Linked DNA regions of Homo sapiens: regions 2, 3 and 4 are each linked to region 1. The links come from fine-mapping of genetic effects on gene expression. A gene starts in region 1. Each other region holds a variant in brackets. All regions are shown on one strand. Distances are from middle to middle. Region 1 holds the start of ZNF154 (zinc finger protein 154). Region 2 holds the start of ZSCAN4 (zinc finger and SCAN domain containing 4). Region 3 holds the start of ZNF587 (zinc finger protein 587). Region 4 holds the start of ZNF552 (zinc finger protein 552).

What was found.
Region 2: its variant is fine-mapped to the expression of ZNF154 in T cells (TOPMed, PIP 0.92).
Region 3: its variant is fine-mapped to the expression of ZNF154 in whole blood (TOPMed, PIP above 0.99).
Region 4: its variant is fine-mapped to the expression of ZNF154 in whole blood (TOPMed, PIP above 0.99).

The regions. Positions count from the first base shown.
Region 1 is chr19:57,706,659-57,711,789 of GRCh38, reverse strand. ZNF154 (zinc finger protein 154) reads left to right here and starts at 2,586. Exons shown (of 3, transcript NM_001085384.3): 1 at 2,586-2,851. The coding sequence starts at 2,819. RefSeq lists enhancers at 2,406-2,465, 2,486-2,615, 2,359-2,998.
Region 2 is chr19:57,666,512-57,671,666 of GRCh38, reverse strand. ZSCAN4 (zinc finger and SCAN domain containing 4) reads right to left here and starts at 2,732. Exons shown (of 5, transcript NM_152677.4): 1 at 2,464-2,732; 2 at 1,100-1,422. The variant G/A (reference allele first, on the strand shown) is at 3,075.
Region 3 is chr19:57,847,930-57,853,084 of GRCh38, reverse strand. It overlaps ZNF587 (zinc finger protein 587), which reads right to left and starts at 3,226. Exons shown (of 3, transcript NM_032828.4): 1 at 3,014-3,226. The coding sequence starts at 3,046. LOC124904782 (a long non-coding RNA gene) reads left to right here. Exons shown (of 2, transcript XR_007067358.1): 2 at 2,524-2,770. RefSeq lists enhancers at 1,585-2,784, 2,839-2,928, 2,979-3,218, 3,389-3,448, 3,519-3,628. The variant A/G (reference allele first, on the strand shown) is at 2,063.
Region 4 is chr19:57,812,081-57,817,235 of GRCh38, reverse strand. It overlaps ZNF552 (zinc finger protein 552), which reads left to right and starts at 2,323. Exons shown (of 3, transcript NM_024762.3): 1 at 2,323-2,525; 2 at 3,816-3,942. The coding sequence starts at 2,493. RefSeq lists enhancers at 1,999-2,048, 5,056-5,155. The variant G/A (reference allele first, on the strand shown) is at 2,455.

The sequences.
Region 1 (5,131 bases):
GGCAGGCGCCCGTAGTCCCAGCTACTCAGGAGCCTGAGGCAGGAGAATGGCGTGAACCTCGGAGGCTGAGCTTGCAGTGAGCCGAGATCGTGCCACTGCACTCCAGCCTGGGCGACAGAGCAAGACTCTGTCTCAAAAAAAAAAAAAAAAATGTGTGCGTGCATGTGTATGTATCTGCTTTCTCTCCAAGAGGACCTAATAATCAATGATTTACCAGTAGAAAAGAGCACAGCTAATGCTTACTAATATTTACAAGCATTGTTATCTATTGAAGAAAACCAGAGCTCCTTGAAAAAGAGGCTGATTCTGGGGCTGGGATAGCAAGGGTACAACATGAGCCTGAAAATATTTTTGGATTAGAAAGTAATGAAATTATCAATAATATTGACATAAAAAAGCAGAGAGCACAGCTTTAATGAGTTCCCACTGTCCAAACATCTGGGAGAATCTGAACATTAAAATAAATGTTGGGGCCGGACGCAGTGGCTCACGCCTGTAATTCCAGCACCTCGAGAGGCCGAGGTGGGTGGATCATGAGGTCAGGAGTTCAAGACTAGCCTGGCCAAGATGGTGAAACCCTGTCTCTACTAAAAATACAAAAAATTAGCTAGGCATGGTGGTGGGCAACTGTAGTCCCAGCTACTCGGGAGGCTGAGGCAGGAGAATGGCGTGAACCTGGGAGGCGGAGCTTGCAGTGAGCCGAGATCGCGCCACTGCACTCCAACCTGGGTGACAGAGCAAGATTCCATCTCAAAAAAAAAAAAAAAAAAAAAAGTACATTACCTTGCTGAGAATTAAAAAGAAAATTTTATATTCGAGTGCTATTTATTTTGCGGCTCCAAAACTTTATAACAAAGCAGCAGAGATTTCTCGGCCAGGCTCGGTGGCTCATGCCTGTAATCCCAGCACTTTGGGAAGCCGAGATGCGTGGATCACCTGAGGTCAGTGGTTCGAGACCAGCCTGGCCAACATGGTGAAACCCCGTCTCTTCTAAAAATACAAAAATTAGCTGGGTGTCATGGCGTGCGCCTGTAGTCCCAGCTACTTGGGAGGCTGAGGCAAGATAATCGCTTGAACCCAGGAGGTGGAGAGGTTGCAGTGAAACAAGACTGCGTCATTGCACTCCAGCCTGGGCAATAAGAGTGAAACTCCATCTCAAAAAAAAAGAAAAAAAAAAAAGAAGAGATTTCTCACCTATATACCCTGAGTGTCTCTGCAGCCAGCAAAGCAGATGAAGGCCTGCTGGGTTGGAGCCCTAGGCCCTCCAATGCTGAAATGCCCTGTGAAGTCTCCATCCATCCAGGCACTCTAGTAACCTGCTTCTTCTGCCTGGAATTTATTCTAAAAATACCCACATGGCTCATTTCTCACTTCCTTCAAGTGCATTTCACCGGCTTTCTGATTAAGAAGTCCCACCTCTCCCCTTTGTCTCTTATCAAAGTAGCATTTCTTTCATTGTTTTTTGAGATTGATGTTAGACTTCTAGAAGGAATATATCTCAGATATCAAGTAAGAATTATGAAATGGATAAAAGCGTTGCTCAGTGAATTGGACACAGTTATTGACTGGACACAGTAATTGGACACAATAATTGACTATGCAGGCAAAAGATGTTTTCTGTTGGAATCAGACAGAATTCTACCTTTGTACTACTGTTTCAAGGTGATCTAACATTTCTCTTCTATCTTCTAGAAGCACTATCATGCCACTATCTGAAGTAGTTTTTCACCTGTCCCTGACCAAAAGTGCACAGACTGACTTCAATGCTTCGGAGTGCATACATTTGAAATGTAATATGATAGAGGCTGGGTACGGTGGCTTACGCCTGTAATCCCAGCACTTTGAGAGGCCGAGGCGGGCAGATCACCTGGGGCCAGGAATTTGGGACCACCATAGTGAAACCCTGTCTCTACTGAAAATACAAAAAATTAGCCTGGCGTGGTGGCGCGCGCCTATAGTCCCAGCTACTTGGAAGGTTGAGGCACGAGAATCGATTAACCCGGGAGGCGGAGGTTGCAGTGATCCCAGATGGCGCCGCTGCACTCCAGCCTGGGGGACAGAGGGAAACTTTGTCTTAAAAAAAAAAAAAAAGGAATAAACTTATATGGTAATGTTTATTAGCTTCCCTACTAGTGGATATATTTCGTGTCTGAATGGCTCTATGGAATGATGTACATATTTGGATTGGCAGCCTTAGGGAGCGTCTGATAATAATTTTAGCCTCTGGGAGCCTGCTGAACTTTATGAAGTTTGAAATAATATTCCCCAAACACTTGGGTGATCAGTTGCAGATGGCACCTCTAATATGCTGTCTGATTACGACCCATTTAAGAAAGGGCGAAGTCCCTCCACTGCCCTAGGACTTGGATAAGCCATTTCTCATCGCCCAGCGCCCTGGAGCTTCGCTTTTACTCCAAGAGGTTGGTGCAAAGGGTCCCCGGCACCCACCTCGGGATCTATGAAAACTACATTACCTAGAATGCTCTGCGTTGAACGCCACGCTACTAAGCCAGTAAGAGCTCAGAAAACCGACTTTCCTTGAGAGTCACAAAAAGAAAGGACGGGACTTTTGGGGGGGCCTCTTCGTGGCGGCCATTTTAGCTTCTCTGAGGTGTGTTCACCGGATCAGAGATAGCAGAGCGCCGAGTTGGGGCCACGAAGGCGTGAGGGGAGTCGTCGTCCCTCCTGCACGAAAGCGTCTAAGCCTTGGCGACGCCGCCCTGGGGGACCCACGTCAGGCCTGGGATAGGGACCGCTGTCCCCGGGTCCCTACCAATGTCGCCCGTCGCTCCCGGCCCAGCTCTACCCGCAGAGTCTGATGGCAGCGGCCACTCTGAGGACGCCAACTCAGGTGAGTGCGGCGTCTTCCCGTCCTCACACACCTTCCCCCACCCACGTTCTAAAGCCATCAGTGAGGGGCGCCTGCTCGAGTCCCCGCTGCCCAGGGTCGGGGACACTGAGGCGTTCGTGGGTGGGGCCCTTTTTTTGACACTGCGTGTGACGAGGTGTGGGAGAGCGTGACAGGCGGAGGAACCGGCGCGTGCAAAGGTTGAGGCGCGACTGAGCCAGGAGAATTCGGAAAGCTGTTTTCTGCAGGGAACGAAGAATATGAGGCGGAGTTACTCCTAGGGTTGTACTGTCATTGTGAGGATGCTAGAAGCCACGGAGAGTTCTGAACAAAGGAGGGACGCCATTTATGTTAGTTTTTTTTTCTTTGAGACGGAGTTTCGCTCTTATCGCCCAGGCTGGAGTGCAATGACGCGATCTCGGGTCACTGCAACCTCCGACTCCCGGGTTCAAGCGATTCTCCTGCCTCAGCCTCCCCAGCAGCTGGGATTACAAGCCTGCAGCTGGGATTACAACGTCCGGCTAATTTTTTGTATTTTTAGTAGAGACGGGATTTCACCATTTTGGCCAGACTGGTCTGGAACTCCTGACAAGTGATCCTCCTGCCTCGGCCTCCCAAAGTGCTGGGATTACAGGCGTGAGCCACCGTGCCCGCCCTATGTTAGGGTTTAAAAACTTTTCCAAAGACTGTTCACAGGAAGAGCAGCGATGGGGCGATGAGGACATTGAGATAGTGGGAGGCTACATCTTTTTTTCATTGCCCTACAGTTGGCAAGAGGTGACAGCACTGAGACCAGAAAGTAAAACAGCCAGCCTGAGTTCAGGGCCAGGCAGGGCTACAGGGAGGCTTGAGCTCATCTAGCCTCACCAGGGATGCATTCCTCTTTCCCTGGTTCTCCCAGTTGTAGAAGGGCGTATGGAACTCACATAGGGAAGTGGAGAGTGTTCGGTCCCTCAGTAGCCTCTACCCCCATGTTCTTGGGATTGTGGTTTCCTAGTATTCTTAAGTGCTGTTACCCCAATCCTGGGTCTGGTGCCCTGGAGAAATTCCAAGCCCAGGGCTCTTAAGTCCATGCCAGAGGTTACAGGGGTTATACTGAGGTGTTCCCATTTTTGTCAGCCAGTGGAAACTTGTGAAAGGTTATCTCTGGCACTGGTATCAGGAGGCGCAAGTGCTTAGTAAAACTAAGCTGAGATTTTTGAGGAAACCATAGATCTGTTTCCTTTTAGCTGGGAACAAAGAGCAGGGGGAAGGAGTCAGGACTGCAGTGGCTGCCTGAGAAGTTGGGTACCTATTCTGGAGGTAATGAGAGATTTGGGTTACAAGAGGGAGGTGATCTTACCAAAGTCCTAACAGGGTCCATCCCGTTAGCGTGGAGAGCAGACTGTGGGGTTGAGGGAAGAGGAAAGAAGATCAGAGTGGAAGCTACAGCCAGTCCAGGGTAATGGACCAGAGTCATTGATTAGGAGATGTGTTGCATTCTGGATGCAAATTTTTAAAGGGAGCAACTAAATTTTCTGATGTAGACAGCGAGGGAGTGAAACAGGATTCAGCGATGACCCCATGGTTCTTCAACTGAGATGGAGAAGTTGGTATTAACAGTAATATTCACTGGAGACAACAGGAGCTTTATTTGGTCATGTAAGAGTTTGAGATGTTTCAGAGACATTAAGTAGGCATTAAGTAGGTGGCTGAACACCCAGGTCTGGAAATCTGGGGAGTGCTTCAGAATGGAGACATCCAAAATGTGGTGGTCATTGTGTGGACTAAGGTGAGTGAGCTGTGGATTACATTTAGAAGGGTTGTTCTATTTTTTTTTTTTTTTTTTGAGATGGAGTGTCTCTCTTGTTGCCCAGGCCAGAGTGCAATGGCGCGAGCTTGGCTCACCACAACCTCCGCCTCCCGGCTTCAAGCAATTCTCCTGCCTCAGCCTCCCGAGTAGCTGGGATTACAGGCATGCGCCACCACGCCCGGCTAATTTTGTATTTATTTAGTAGAGACAGGGTTTCTCCATGTTGGTCAGGCTAGTCTTGAACTCCCAACCTCAGGTGATCCACCCGCCTCAGCCACCCAGAGTTCTGGGATTACAGGCGTAAGCCACCGCATCCGGCCTACAAGGGTTAATCTTTAGGCATGGTGGTACAGGTTATTTGGCCAGGAAGGGCAGAATGGGGGCTAAGGACCAAGCCTTTTGGTTGGATAAGTGGGTGATATTCTTGGGCTTTCTAAACAGAGGTAAGGGAGGTTAGTGGCTATGGAGGTAGGGTGTTTGGAGAGGATAGT
Region 2 (5,155 bases), 40 kb after region 1:
CTCTACTCTCTGGATGGCTCCCCTTTGCCCTCAGGGAAAAGCACTGAGTCCTTGTCCTACGAGGCTTTCCTGGGCCAGCTCTACACTTCTCAAGCTCCATCTTAGGTGTTGTGGCTGGTTCTCTATATCCAGGGACATTGGTCTCTCTCTCTCTCTTTTTTTTTTTTTTTCCTGTGGAACCCATGGCTTCCCCTTCATTTCACTTCCCTCCAAGTTCTCTTTTTGGATTACCCACCCTTTCTCCCCTATGACACACAGACCACATGTTCACACTTGGAGACATGCACTCCGTCCCACATAGACAAGACTGCAAAGTATTATGGCTTATTTCCCAGAACCTGGGAATTCAAAACAAGGCTACCGGAGCTCTAATCTGGAGTCTGGCAATTACAAACTGTGACGCAGGCATGCTACCCGTCAGGTCTGGGTCTGTATCCTGGGCTTTATGATCTCTAATGACACCCAGCTACATATTTCATATAATGCAATACAAAGGAATTACTAAGCTGGGCACAGTGGCTCACATCTGTAATCCCAGCACTTTTGGAGGCTGAAAGTGGGCAAATCACTGGAGGCCAGGAGTTTGAGACCACACTGGGCAACATGGCAAAATCCTGCCTCTACAAAAAATAGAAAAATTAACCTGGTGTGGTGGTGTGCGCCTGTGGTCCCAGCTGCTCAGGAAGCTAAGGTGGAAGGATCACTTGAGCCTGGGGAGGCTGAAGCTGCAGTGAGCTGTGATTGGGGCTACTAAACTTTAGCCTGGGTGATAGAGATCTTGTCTCGAAAAAAAAAAAAGAATTACTAGAACATAAAGTCATACGATAGACTTTTTGAAGAAAAATCTTCAGTCACACCAGGCCTTTATACAGAGTTCACAACATCAAGCCCTTTTGGGTCAGAGCTGTTGTAACAAAAGACCATTCCCTACACCTGGGAGACCCCCATATCTCTGTAGTTAGGAATTTTCCTGAAATAGCTATGCCTACATACACATGTATACACACTCAAAGACACAAAATTATGTATACACACTCAAAGACACAAAATGTATACACACTCAAAGGCACAAAATTTTCCTTCCATTATGGAAGCTTACCTCCTTGGTTGACTGGGTAATCCCGGGCCGAACACTGAGCTGATGTGTGACTAGCTTTCCACACTGGGTTTATCTGATGTGCCTCCTAAGGCTGCTCCCTTTTATAGGGGCTGGGATCAGTGATTGATTTAAAGACGTGATTGGATAACACTTGTCTGTTGATTGAATTACTGATGGAATCTTCATCCAGCCCCAGCTCCATGTCAGTGATTGATTTAAAGACGTGATTGGATAACACTTGTCTGTTGATTGAATTACTGATGGAATCTTCATCCAGCCCCAGCTCCATGTCTCTAATACAGTGTTCTATACCATCACTGGTCCTGGGTCAACAGGTCATAAACAAACACATTAATATTTCTGCAGGCTAGGTGCAGTGGCTCACACCTGTAATCTCAGCACTTTGGGAGGCTGAGGCAGGCAGATCACCTGAGATCAGGAGTTCAAGACCAGCCTGGCCAACATGGTGAAACCCTTTCTCTACTAAAAATACAAAAATTAGCCGGGCATGGTGGTGGGCACCTGTAATCCCAGCTACTTGGGAGGCTGAGGCAGGAGAATTACTTGAACCTGGGAGGCAGAGGCTAGAGTGAGCCAAGATTGCGCCACTGCATTCCAGCCTGGGAGACAGAGCAAGACTCTGTGAATCCCTAGCCTGAGCAACAAAGCAAGACCCTGTCTCTACCAAAAATAATGTTAAAAATGTTAGCCAGGCATGGTGGCATGTCTGTGTAGCTTGTTTGAGCCAGGGAGTTCATGGCTACAGTGGATTATGACCGCCCTACTGAACTCTGGCCTGGGAAATGGAAGGAGACCAAGTCTCTAAAAAAAAAACAAAACAAAACGAACAAAAAAAAAACCATGCCTGTAATCCCAGCACTTTTGGAGGCCGAGGTGGGCGGATCACGAGGTCAAGAGTTCGAGACCAGCCTGGCCAATATGGTGAAACCCCATCTCTACTAAAAATGCAAAAATTAGCCAGGCGTAGTGGCGCGTGCCTGTAGTCCCAGCTATTCAGGAGGCTGAGCAGAAGAATTGTTTGAACCACAGAGGCGGAGGTTGCAGTGAGCTGAAATTGTGCCACTGCACTGCAGCCTGGGCGACAGAGGTAGACTGTCTCAAAAACCAACAAACAAACAAACACACACAAAAATACAAAATCTGCGGTAAAATGTAACAAGGTCCACATTAAATGAAAATATAAAGACAGGCTGGGTGTGGTGGCTCGCGCCTGTAATCCCAGCACTTTGGGAGGCCGAGGCAGGTGGATCATGAGGTCAGGAGTTTGAGACCAGCCTGACCAACATGGTTAAACCCGGTTTCTATTAAAAATACAAAAATTATCTGGGCGTGGTAGCATGCACCTGTAATCCCAGCTACTCAGGAGGCTGAGGCAGAAGAATTGTTTGAATCCAGGAGGCAGAGGTTGCAGTGAGCCGAGATTACGCCACGGCACTCCAGCCTGGACGACAGAGCGAGACTGTGTCTCAAAAAAAAAAAAAAAAAAAAGGAAAATATAAAGACAAACGTTAGTCTCACAAATTCTGATCAAGTTTTATTATAAATTACTCATAGAAACATGACAAACTTTTGCTCAAACTTTTAAGTTTTCAGAGATTTATGAATTACAAGGGTGGCAGAGGGCAAGGCTAATGCTGTGACTCCTGTGCCAATTCCAGGCTGGTGAAACAGAGGGGGCCCGGGACCCAGAGAAGGCATTCCTAATCCATCAAAAAGATGACAGGGGTTGAGACTAGGATTATATCAGTGGAAAGGGAGAAATTGGTGCATATTTTATATTGAGAAAGCATATGATGTTTGATAGACTTAACATGAGGCTTGAGAGAGATGGAGGAGTTAAAATGGTGAGAAGCGCCTGGTCACCTAGTGTGGTGGAAGCTGTGCCTTCTTCCCTGCACTCTCCCTCCCCACTTTCCACCCTCATACAGGCTGAGGCTTTGGTGGAGTTGAGAAC[G/A]TATCGAAGGGGTGGGAGCTAATTACAGCCATGTGTTTCATCTGCTCCATCAGGCATGCAGCCTCTTGGGGCTTAGATTGTCCCCCTATCACTGTTGGGTACAGAGTTTGAATCTCCTGGTACTCCACTGATGAAATGTCTGCTTGACTTCCCCACATTAGGAATTATGTTCTGAATCCTCACATTATAAGACTGTGTACTAGTCCATTTCTCCAAGGAGTTTCATCCACATATACTCCATACAGAGAAGTATCCCTGCTCCCATCAAGAGCCAATTTTCCACTGGTGGTTTAGGTCCTGTCACCAACTATGTCATTAAACCAACTGTGACAGGAAAATTGGCTCTTGATGGAAGCAGGGATACTTCTCTGCTACAACAATGAAAAATGGGCTGGGCGCAGTGGCTCATGCCTGTAATCCCAGCACTTTGGGAGGCCGAGGCGGGTGGATCACCTGAGGTCAGGAGTTTGAGACCAGCCTGGCCAACATGATGAAACCTCGTCTCTACTAAAAAAATACAAAAATTAGCCAGGCATGGTGGCAGGCACCTGTAATCCCAAGTACTCGGGAGCCTGAGGCAGGAGAATCACTTGAACCTGGGAGGCCGAGGTTGCAGTGAGCCAAGATCGCACCACTGCTCTCCAGCCTGGGCGACAGAGTGAGACTCTGTCTCAAAAACAAACAAACAAACAAACAAAAAACAAACAAAAAAAAAACAATGAAAAATGTAGACAATGTGAGTACCACTGGAGGCCAGTTGTTAATTTGTGGTGGGTTGAAAGCATTTCCTGTCTGCTTCTGCAGTCTCAAGGAGTTCCTTGAGCTCTGTAAGGAGCTGTAAGGAAAAGGTTTGGGGAAAAGCTGGCAATTTCTGTTTGGAGGAGGTTATTGGATTTTTGAGTTCAGATATACAGCCAGCTGTTGGACATGCTGGTGTGTAACTCTGGGAGCAGTTAGACCTGAGGCACGATGATATCAGTAAGAGTAGTAATAGCATCAGGGATCATAATAACTAACCTTTAAGCAGTCAGGGCATATTTGACTCTGTTCTCAGTGCTTTCTGTATGTTAACCCATTTCCATCACAACAGTCCTGTAAAGTAGATCCTAAATAACTCCATTTTAACATCAAAATAACAGAGGCACAGAGAAGTTCAGTACCTTGGCCAGTGCTACATAGCCTGTAAGTGGCTGGGCTAGGATTTGATACCTGGCTCCAGAGTGGGACTCTGAATGCTACATTAAGAAGGCAAAGACACACAGCCACTGTGTAAAACCAGCAGCTTTCTAGGGAATGGGCTAATGGAGGAGTGAAGGGCATGAGCAGGAGGATTTATCCTTGGGGAAACACAGATGGTGGAGGAAATGACCTGGTGATACCCCAACTTAGGCATAGAATAAACAGGCACAAAACAATAAAAATAAATGTGAAATCCACATAGTAATTTAATCAAATAAGGATATTACAAAGACAACTATCAAATGCTTTTCTGATCAATTGGGAAGGCAGGTAGTGCTGCCTTTGGTAAAAATAGATGACCCGTTTACATCCAGCATCATCTCAACTTGTGTCTGGTGAGTATCCCCGCTCCAGTGTGAGTGAGGAAAATAACCTTTGTTTCCAAGAAGACAAAGCCAATCCGCCTCAGTATGTAGGAAACAGTGATTTCAATTAGAATAATAATAATAATAATAAAAACCTGGTAGGAAAATAAACAAAACTGTTAACTTTCTATTTTTTTCGAGACAAAGTCTTGCTCTGTCGCCCAGGCTGGAGTGCAGTGGCACGATCTTGGCTCACTGCAACTTCCGCACCCAGAGTAGCTGTGATTAAAGGCATGCGCCACCACACCCGGCTAATTTTTGTATTTTAGTAGAGACGGGGTTTCACCATGTTGGCCAGGATAGTCTCAAACTCCTGATCTCAGGTGATCCGCCCACCTCAGCCTCCCCAGGTGCTGGGATTACAGGCGTGAGCCACCACACCTGGTGACTTTCTTTTCTTTTTTTTTTTTTTTTGAGAAAAAATATTTAGTCAATTTATTTATTATTTATTGATTTTTGGTTGTTGCACCTACTTTA
Region 3 (5,155 bases), 140 kb before region 1:
GGTCAGGAGTTTGAGACTAGCCTGGCCAACATGGTGAAACCCCGACTTTACTAAAAATAGAAAAATTAGCCGAGTGTGGTGGTACATGCCTGTAATCCCAGCTACTCAGGAGGCTGAGGCAGGAGAATCACTTGAGCCCAGGAGGTGAAGGTTGCAGTGGGCTGAGATTGTGCCACTAGACTCCAGGCTGGACAAGAGAGTGAAACTCCGTCTCAAAAAAAAAAAAAAAAAAAAAAAAAAAAAAGCCTAGCTGTCTCGGCTGGGCGCATTGGTCCATGCCTATAATCCCAGCACTTTGGGAGGCCGAGATGTGACGATCACTTGAGGTCAGGAGTTCGAGACCAGCCTGGCCAACATGGTAAAACCTCGTCTCTACTAAAAATACAAAAATTAGCTGGGCATGATGGTGGGTGCCTGTAATGCCAGCTACCTTGAATGCTGAGGCAGGAGAATTGCTTGAACCTGGGAGGCAGAGGCTCCAGTGAGCCCAAGATTGCGCCATTGCACTCCAGCCTGGGCAACAAGACTGAAATTCCACGTTAAGAAAAAAAAAAGAAAACCTAGCTGTCTCTTTACAAAAAGTGAATCCTGAATCCAGACCCATGTGATTTACCACTTATCTGATCCATTAACCCTCACCTGGATTATGGCAGGAGCCTTATCTCTGACCTTTCTTCCTCTTCCCTCAACCCACAGTCTATGCAACAAGGTCCAGCCAGATGAAGCCTGTAGCCAGGTAGAACTGTGGTAATATCACCTCCTGACTTTGATCCGTTTTATCTCTAAGCATTTCACAACCTGGTAGCAAATCCTGGGTTAATCTTACAAGGGTGTTTACATTGGTTGACAGAAATGGGAATACCTCCATATAACCTGTCATGGACTTGGTATCCTGGCTTCAGAGATTCTCCAGGGTCCTCGGATCAAAGGACTGAAAAAAATGGCACTTAAGAGTCCCAGGACACCACAAGCTAGAGAACCTGTAGATGGCGTCAGGACCAATGAGGGAATGGAACACCCTCCACTTCCCTGTGTGGGTTCCCTAAGTGCTTCTGCAGCCAGGAGTGCCTGAGGGGAAAGGCAGACATTACAAACATGTCACAGGATTTGATAAGCTCAGGACTCCCTGAACCCTTTCTTGTCCCTGGAACCAGGTAACCCTAAGGCTGGTTGTCTGACCTGCTTTTCTCAGTGCAAAATGTCATCTCTACCATCTATGTGATCTACAAAACGGATTCAACCTCCCAAGGCCCCAAAGTCCTCATCCTCTCTCTCTATGATGTTCTTCCTTTGATTGGCCTTTGGGAAACTTCTTAAAAGCCTGGATTTGGATCATGTCCCTCCTTTCTTCAAAACTCTCCATGGCTTCTAGAATCCTCATGATGAATGCACAGCCCCTGGCCTGCTTGCTCTACCAGGAAGAGCTCCATCTCACACGTTGTTCCTGACAGATGCCTGTGAACCCCAGGTTCCATCCTTCCAGCTCTGTCCATCTGCAGGCCATTGCCTGCACCCCTACCTGTGCCTGTCACTCTCCCCACTGCATCCCACTGGTGTCAGAAACAGGTGAAACCGACTTTGCAAAATTATAACTGACGAAATTATGACAGTGAAAGAAATCAGACCTAACCGACTCCATCTTGCTTCCAACCTTTCAGCCGTCTTTTTTCATTCCTGGGCATAGGCTGAATTAACTTTGGAAAAGAATTCAGTTCATGGTTTCACTCTGAAACAAAATTGATAATAGCCCTTTCCTGAAAAGACCCCTTTCTTGCCTGGGGACCAGCCTGTCTTTGCAGGACTAACAAATTAGCTACAAGAATAGAAATTACGGTTTAGGGGTCATGCAGCTTCTGGCTCCAAGAGTCTGAACCTCCCCAAGTTGCTCCTGAAGATAACCTTACTATTGTAAAACCTAATGTGAGTTTCTGGGGTGCTAGTTGAGTTGGTCTCCCCTGTGTGAGACACCCATGGGAAGCCATGGGCGGCCTCTGAGGAGAAAAGTCTCCTTATTGCCTTCATGTCTTTATGCCCCGAGAGCATAACTCTTCAGCAGCATTCC[A/G]TGGGTTGCTCAGGGAGATCACACTCCCTTGAAGCAGTGGAGCATAATCAAACATCTTGGCTCCTCCTGAAACCCGCAGCCACCCGTTTCAGTTAAGTTAAAGATCTTAAGTAGTTTAGACACACGCCTTTGTTCAAGGAAATTCACAGAAACGGCCAGTGCTTTACATCTTATGGAATGACTCACGAGTTCTCCTTTACTGATTAATCCTTTTCCTGATCGCTTCCTCCCCCTCCAATCAGCCATAAGAACAAAGAGCTTGTAAACCAATAAACTGGGTGGAGCCCAAGAGCTCTGGGCCGCCAGGAAGCCTCCAATGCTCTGGCCACCTGGACCCGCCTTTTAAATGCGTATTCTGTCTCTTTCTAACTCCTTTGTCTCCGCAGGACTCGGGGTATCTGCTGGGTGGTGTGGGGCTGGTTTCCCCAATATCTAAGATCAGTGCTTGGGGCATTTTGCAGATCCTGCACTGGATGGATCAGCGGACAACACACAGACCGGTAATCTGGGTCAATCAGTTCTGCCATCCCACCCAGAACAGAAAACAGCATGAAAAACTCACTTTAACCCCCTATGAATCCATCTCCAACCAGACTGATCAGCACTCCCCACTTCCCAAGCCCCTACCCGCCAAATTTTGAAAACTCTGATCCCAGAATGCTCAGGGAGACTGATTTGAATAATAAAACTCCTGTCTCCCGAACAGCAGGACGGCTCTGCGTGAATTACTATTTCTCCATCGCAATTCCCCAGTCTTCATAAATCGGCTCTGTCTAGGCAGCTGGCAACGTGAACCCACTGGACGGTTACAAGGAGAGGCCTCCTGTGAGCGCCTCAGTGTTCCTACGCCGGGTACCGGCTACAGACCCACGAGCAGGAGCCGCTCCCTCGCTGGTTTAGGACCTGGGTGACGATGGGGTGACCTGAGGGCACAGAAGGCACCACAATTACCTGAGTTGGGCGCCTCGGCACAGCCGCTGCCATCGGACTACTTGGGGAAGCACGGCCCGGGAGCAGTGGTCGCCGTCACGGGGCTGCAGAGCCGCCTCTGGGCACCGAGGACGATTCCTCTCCACCTTCTAGGTTCAGTCACCGCGGTCCCACCCAGCACTCAGGGGCCACAAACTGGGGAAACACCCGCATCGCCGATACACAGCCGCTACTAGAGACCCCGGAAGTCTCGGCCTTACGTTACGTGCACACGTGGAAATGCCTTCTTTCCGAGTGCTCACTGGCTCTGACCGGCTGTCGTTTAAAGCAGAGCTTTCTGGGTAATGTAGTTCCCCACTTTCCATGACACAACATGGTTACCAGGTTCTGAAATGTTCATGGCTCAGATGCACCTCCAAGCCTTTGTACCTATTGGTTCCTCTACCTGTATTACTCTAGCTGGGGTGAAGCCTGTAATACACAGCATTTACCTGAGCTAGGTCCCTCAGTGTGGCTGCTGCCATCAACTGTGGGTGGAGCAGGCATCACCCCAGCCAGTGCCTATGAGCCTCAGACCTGCCACTTGGGAGCAGAGATGACTACTCCTCTTGTGCCTTCTCAGTCCCAACCCAGTACTCCCTGGCCTGACAAGCATGCCCAGAAATCCCTCATCCTGGGCCTTGCAACTAGCGCCTTCTGGGTAAAGTACTTCCCAGAGCTCTCAGCCAACAATGGTGGTATCCTCCAAGAGCAAACCGAATGCAGACCATGTTACATTCTGAGGGCTGCTGGAAAGCCCTGCTCACACCTCAAAGGAGGAAGATTATTGATTCTTTGTAAAAGCATCAAATAGGTATCACATCAGACTCTAGGAAGCTCATCCTGCACCCAGAGAATAAAAATACTATTTGAGATGCTCCCAAACTTTACTTATCTAAGTGGCCATATCATTGGCATCATTCAGACTTACAATGTGTGCACTCAGAGCTGAGAACATTAAGTATTGATTGCTCTTTAAATTCACGTAGACTGAATCATTACAGTCAGTTTTGCGAGTTTCATTGTTTTGTTGGGAACAAAAGAAAATTCTCCATAAGACATGATGACAGGATGGGTACAAAAAACAGTGAGCAAAAATGAATAAGACCTAATATTTGCTACCATAACAGGGTGGCTATAGTCAAAATAATTTAATTATATATTTAAAAATAACTAAAAGAGTATAACTGGACTGTTTATAATACAGAGGATAAATGTTGAGGTGACTGAGACCCCATTTACCCTATGTGATTATCACATATGGCATGGCTACATCAAAATATCTAATGTAATCTACAAATATATACACTACTATATACCCACAAAAAATAAAAATAAAGGCCAGACATGGTGGCTCACACCTGTAATCCCAGCACTTTGGGAGGCCAAGGCAGGTGGATCACCTGAGGTCGGGAGTTCGAGACCAGCCTGGCCAACATGGAGAAACCGTGTCTCTACTGAAAGTACAAAATTTTCCAGGCATGGTGCTGCATGCCTCCAATTCCAGCTACTCGGGAGGCTGAGGTAGGAGAATTACTTGAACCCTGGAGGTGGAGGTTGCGATGAGTCGAGATCATGCCATTGCACTCCAGCCTGGGCAACAGGAGTGAGACTCTGTCTCAAAAAAAATAAAAAATAAAAAATAAATAAATTGCTGGGTGCAGTGGCTCATGCCTATAATCCCAACACTTTGGGAGGCTGAGTCAGGTGGATCATGAGGTCAGGAGTTCGAGACCAGCCTGACCAATATGGTGAAACCCCATCTCTAATAAAAATAAAAAAATTAGCCGGGCACGGTTGCTCACGCCTGTAATCCCAGCACTTTGGGAGGCCGAGGTGGACAGATCATGAAGTCAGGAGATCAAGACCATCCTGGCTAACACAGCAAAACCCATGTTAAAAAAATTGCTGGGCATGGTGGCAGACACCTGTAGTCCCAGCTACTCGGGAGGCTGAGGCAGGAGAATCGCCTGAACTCTGGAGGCAGAGGTTGCAATGAGCTGAGATCGCATGACTGCACTCCAGCCTGGCGACAGAGCTAGACTCCGTCTCAAAAAAATAAAATAATAATAAAGATCTAATGACAGGGAAATAGACGGATGTTGGTACACCCTGAAGCAGGTA
Region 4 (5,155 bases), 110 kb before region 1:
CACCTGTCATCCCAACTACTCAGGAGGCTGAGGCAGAAGAATCACTTGAACCCAGGAGGCAGAGGTTACAGTGAGCCAAGATTGAGCCGTTGCACTGTAGCCTGGGCGACAGAGCGAGACTCTGTGTGAAAAAAAAAAACAAAAAACACTGACTAGGTAATTATTCAACAGTTCTGACAGAAGTAGTTCTGAGGAAACATCAGTAGATGGTGAAAAAACTTAGGGCCTCAGAGAAATGTTAGCACTGATGTCTAAGAGATGGAATTATGCTCAGCACATAATTGGAATGGTCACTCTGATGGTTTTGGCTTCAAAATGAGATTCTTCTTTTTTTTTTTTTTTTTTTTTTTGAGGTGGAGTCTCACTCTGTCGCTGTATAAAATGGACCAATCAGCAGGATGTGGGTGGGGTCAAATAAGGGAATAAAAGCTGGCCAGCCAGTAGCAGCAACCCGCCCAGGTCCCCTTCCACACTGTGGAAACTTTGTTCTTTCGCTCTTCGCAATAAATCTTGCTGTTGCTCACTCTTTGGGCCCGCACTGCCTTTATGAGCTGTAACACTCACCGCGAAGGTCTGCCACTTCACTCCTGAAGCCAGCGAGACCACGAACCCACCAGAAGGAAGAAACTCTAGACACATCTGAACACCTGAAGGAACAAACTCCAGACATACCATCTTTAAGAACTTTAACACTGCCCGTGAGGGTCTGCGGCTTCATTCTTGAAGTCAGCGAGACCAAGAACCCACCGGAAGGAACCAATTCTGGACACAATACCTTTCAAACAAGGGACCTGTCCAGGCTTCCTTCTGATGACCAACCCACCTCTAATGCTGGCCAGTCTATTTCACACAAAGTTCTAAGTTTTCCTGGTGTCATAGTAACACTGTAATCTCCCTTAAATCCTTTCTTGAAATGTTTCAACATAGTTCCTAGTGAAGTGGGCTTACTTTGTGCCTGACCCATGCTTCTTTGAGACAAAACACCACGCTCACACCACACGCACACCACAAAACAAAGAACAGGTAAAAAGGGCACACATACACTTTTACCGTTTACACCAAACCAGAATCAAAATCCAAATCAGAGTATCCAGAAATCCAAGCCAGGTCAAAACCAAAACGAAAGTATCAAGCAATCCAAATCAAGTCAAAAACAAAAACCAAAGTGCCGGTACAGGCATGCCGTGGGTGATCAGGCCACCCTTCCACTCAAATGGAGTGGGCAAGTTCCAAAGACTAGTCTTACCAAGTTTCAGATGTCCGGACTCCAAGTGCCTGTTCCTTCCCAGTGTTCAGCCGCTGCATTGATCCTCTGTGGGGGCCTGCCACACGCCACTCTGGCGAGGTGTTCCACTGGGGCAATTGCCTACCCGGGAGTGCTCTCAGGTTCTGCGTCCCTCAAGCTGGCCAGAGTCCCCTGTAGGGATGCTCCACAGGGCAGGCCTAAGCTGCCTAAGGGGCTGCCTCGACTATCTGTTAATCACCTGGCTTCCCAGTCAGGGAACCAAGAAATGTAGCAGGACAAGCCGCAGGGCTGTATTCAGCCTGGAGCTTTGGCAAGACTCACATCTCCAACTACCAAGCTCCCCAAGTGAGGAATTCCTGTCCCTTTTAAGGGCTTACAACTCTAAGGGGGTCCACATGAGAGGTTTGTGATCGATTGAGCAAGCAGGGGGTACACGACTGGGGGCTGCATGCAGTGGTAATCAGAACGGAACAGAACAGGACAGGGATTTTCACAATGCTTTTCCATACAATGTCTGGAATCCATAGATAACATAACCGGTTTGGTCAGGGGTCGATCTTTAACCAGGCCCAGGGTTGGCACCTGGCTGTCTGCCTGTGGATTTCATTTCTGCCTTTTAGTTTTTACTTGTTTCTTTGGAGGCAGAAATTGGGCATAAAACAATATGAGAGGTGGTCTCCTCCCTTAACAGCACAAACGCTTAATTAACATTTCTTTTTCTTTTGAGACAGGTTCTGTCGCCCAGGCTGGAGTGCAGTGGTGCAGTCATAGCTCAGTGCAGCCTGGACCACCTGGGCTCAAGCAGTCCTGACACCTCAGCCTCTCAAAATTTGGGATTACAGGCGCGCGCCACCGTGCGGGTCAGGAGGCTTCCCTGAGGGCCCCGGAGGTGGAGCTGGGCTTTTCCTTCCGAAGCGCCCCTGGGAATCTCTCTCTTTACGGCCTTGGAACCTGGGAAACTACATTACCCAGAAAGCTCTGCGTCAAATGACAGCACGGCAGAGCCAGTGAGAGTTCACATTGAAGGCGTTTCCGTGTGCGCAAGTAAGGTAGAGGCGGGACTCCCGGCGCCCTTTAGTAGCGACCATTTCCATTGGCGTTAGGGAGTCCTTGGAGCGCTGTGTTGGGACCGTGGTGGTGACTGGATCCAGGAGGTCGAGAGTCGTTCTTCTCTTTGCACAGACGTGACTCTGCAGCTCTTTAACGGC[G/A]CCCGCTGCTCTCAACCCAGCTTACCCCACGTGGTCCCATGGCGGCGGCCGCGCTAAGGTTCCCCGTTCAGGTAATTGTGGCGCCTTCCGTGCTCTCCGGTCACCTCCTAGTCACACAAGTCCTAAAGCAGCGAGGGAGCGGCACCTGTTTACGGCTCTGCAACCCGGACCCGGCGTCGGGACACTGAGGCGCTCTCGGGAGGGATCCCTGTTTCAGACACCCGTGGGATGCGGTGGGGAGAGCGACAGGTACAGGGAGGGGCGCGGGCAATGGCCTGGAGATGGACGGATCCGGGAGGATGGAACCTGGGGTCCACAGGCGCCTGTAGGGAACAACCTGTGAGGCGGAACTCCTCCTGGAAAAGCAAGGAGGCTGGGGGCTGTGAAATCATTGCGAGGACACTAGAAATAGGAGAATTTCCAAGAAAGAAGGGACTGGATCAAAGTCCAGGCTTTTAAAGTTTCCTAAAGGCCAAATAAATAACAGAGTAGAGAGGGGATGACGTTGGGGCCCTTTGAGATTGAATCCTTGTAGATCATATAGGTGGTAGAGATGACACTTTGTGCTGAGACACGCAGGTTAGACAATAGTCCAAGGTCACCTGGCTCCGTGGACACAAAAGCGTTCAGGGAGGCCTGAGCTTACCAGATCCTATCAGGGACACAGTCCTGTAAAGTCAGCCTCTTCCCTCAGGCCTTTATGGCTGTAGAAGCATTTAAGGAACGCATACAAGAAAGTGGAGGGTGGGGCCGGGTGCAGTGGCTCACTCCTGTAATCCCAGCACTTTGGGAGGCCTAGGCGGGTTGGTCCGGAGGTAGAGACCAGCCTGACCAACCATGGAGAAACCCTGTCTCTACTAAAAATACAAAATTAGCCAGGCGTGGTGGCGCATGCCTGTAATCCCAGCTACTTGGGAAACTGAGGCAGCAGACTCGCTTGAACCCGGGAGGCGGAGGTTGCGTGAGCCGAGATCGCGCCATTGCACTCCACCCTGGGTGACAGAGCGAGACTCCGTATCAAAAAAAAAAAAAAAAAAAAAAAAAAAAGAATGAGGTGCGTTCAGAGAGGGTATCTCTGCTGTGCTGAAGGTGCCACATTGGGCTTTCCATGACCTCGGCCATACTAGGGGAAGTGCCTGTCAGGAGGGGGTGGACTCTTATATCACAGCCACCGCACAGATACCTATTTGTTCAACTAACTATTGTTGTTGGTGGCTGTACCCCATGACCAGTGGGCCTAGTTTCTCCTATGTTTGAGGACCTTGAGAGGAGGATGTGCGAGAGTAGATGTGTGGGAGAGATGGATTGTGATACCTCAGCATAGGGGTGGTTTGTGGTTTCATCTGTCAACATCATAACAGGGCACAGTGACTTTTGAAGACGTGGCTGTGAAATTTACCCAGGAGGAATGGAATCTCCTTAGTGAGGCTCAGAGATGCCTGTACCGTGATGTGACGCTGGAGAACCTGGCACTTATGTCCTCCCTGGGTAAGTTGCCCACACTCACCCCTGTGACCTGAGCTAGTCTCTGTCTTTCCCCCTCTTTTTCTATTGGCAAGACTTTCTCATGTCAGGAGCATGGACACAGCTTCCTACTTCAGTTCTTGGTTGGTAGGACTGAGGTATGCATACTGCCCTCTCCATTCTTGGAGCAGCCCCAACACCTGCTATTGAGCTCCCAGGGAAGAATTCAGAGTCAGAAGTCTTACAGGCAACTTAATGCAGGCTACCTTGTTTGTCCTGTGGATGTTTGTGTGATTTCATCCAGATTTCAGGTTCGGGATCTAATTCATTCCTCTACCTGTTATTTCTTCATGCCTCCCTGTGCCAGGAATTGTCTTCATTGACATTGTCACTGCCTACATAGACTATAGACTGTTCTTGTAATACCGTCCTTAGAAATTCTCTTCATAGGTCTGGTGCAGTGGCTCATGCCTATAATTTCTGCACTCAGGGAGGCCAAGGTAGGTGGATTACTTGAGGCCAGGAGTTCGAGAACAGCCTGGCCGACATGGTGAAACCCCATCTCTACTGAAAATATAAAAATTAGCCAGGTGTGGTGGCACACGCTTTTAATCCTGGCTACTTGGGAGGCTAAGGTGGGAGGATAGCTTGAACCCAGGAGGCAGGGGTTGCAGTGAGCTGAGATTGTGCCACTGCGCTCCAGCCTGAGCAACAGAGCAAGACTCCGTCTCAAAAAACAGAAATTCTTTTTGTAATATTGTTTCCTGTCTGCTGTCATGTGCTGAGTTGTTCTAAGCCAGTGTTGGCTGTTTCCTTGTTCTGTCTTTCCCTTTGTTCTTACATCATGTATGTCTCATGTACTTGGTTATCTTGGTGGTGGGATCATCTTCTGTGGTCAGAAGATGCAAATGAATCTGGCCTCAGCATTATGGGTTCTGAGTCCCTGAAAAATAGCATCCTAGGACAGTGGTGCATGATGTCAAGAGTTTTATTCAAATCATGACAGAAACCTCTTCTATTTCAGTAGTATTTTTGGGGCCAGACAAGTAAGCACACATGATTTCTGTATCGTCTTTTCTCCTTCATTCTTGTTTTTGGTTTTGTTTGTTTGTTTTTTGAGAAAGGGTCTTGTTCTGTTGCCCAGGCTGGAGTGCAGTAGCTTGATCTCTGCTCACTGCAACCTCTGCCTCCTGGGCTGAAGCACTTCTCCTGCTTCAGCCTCCTGAGAAGCTGGGAA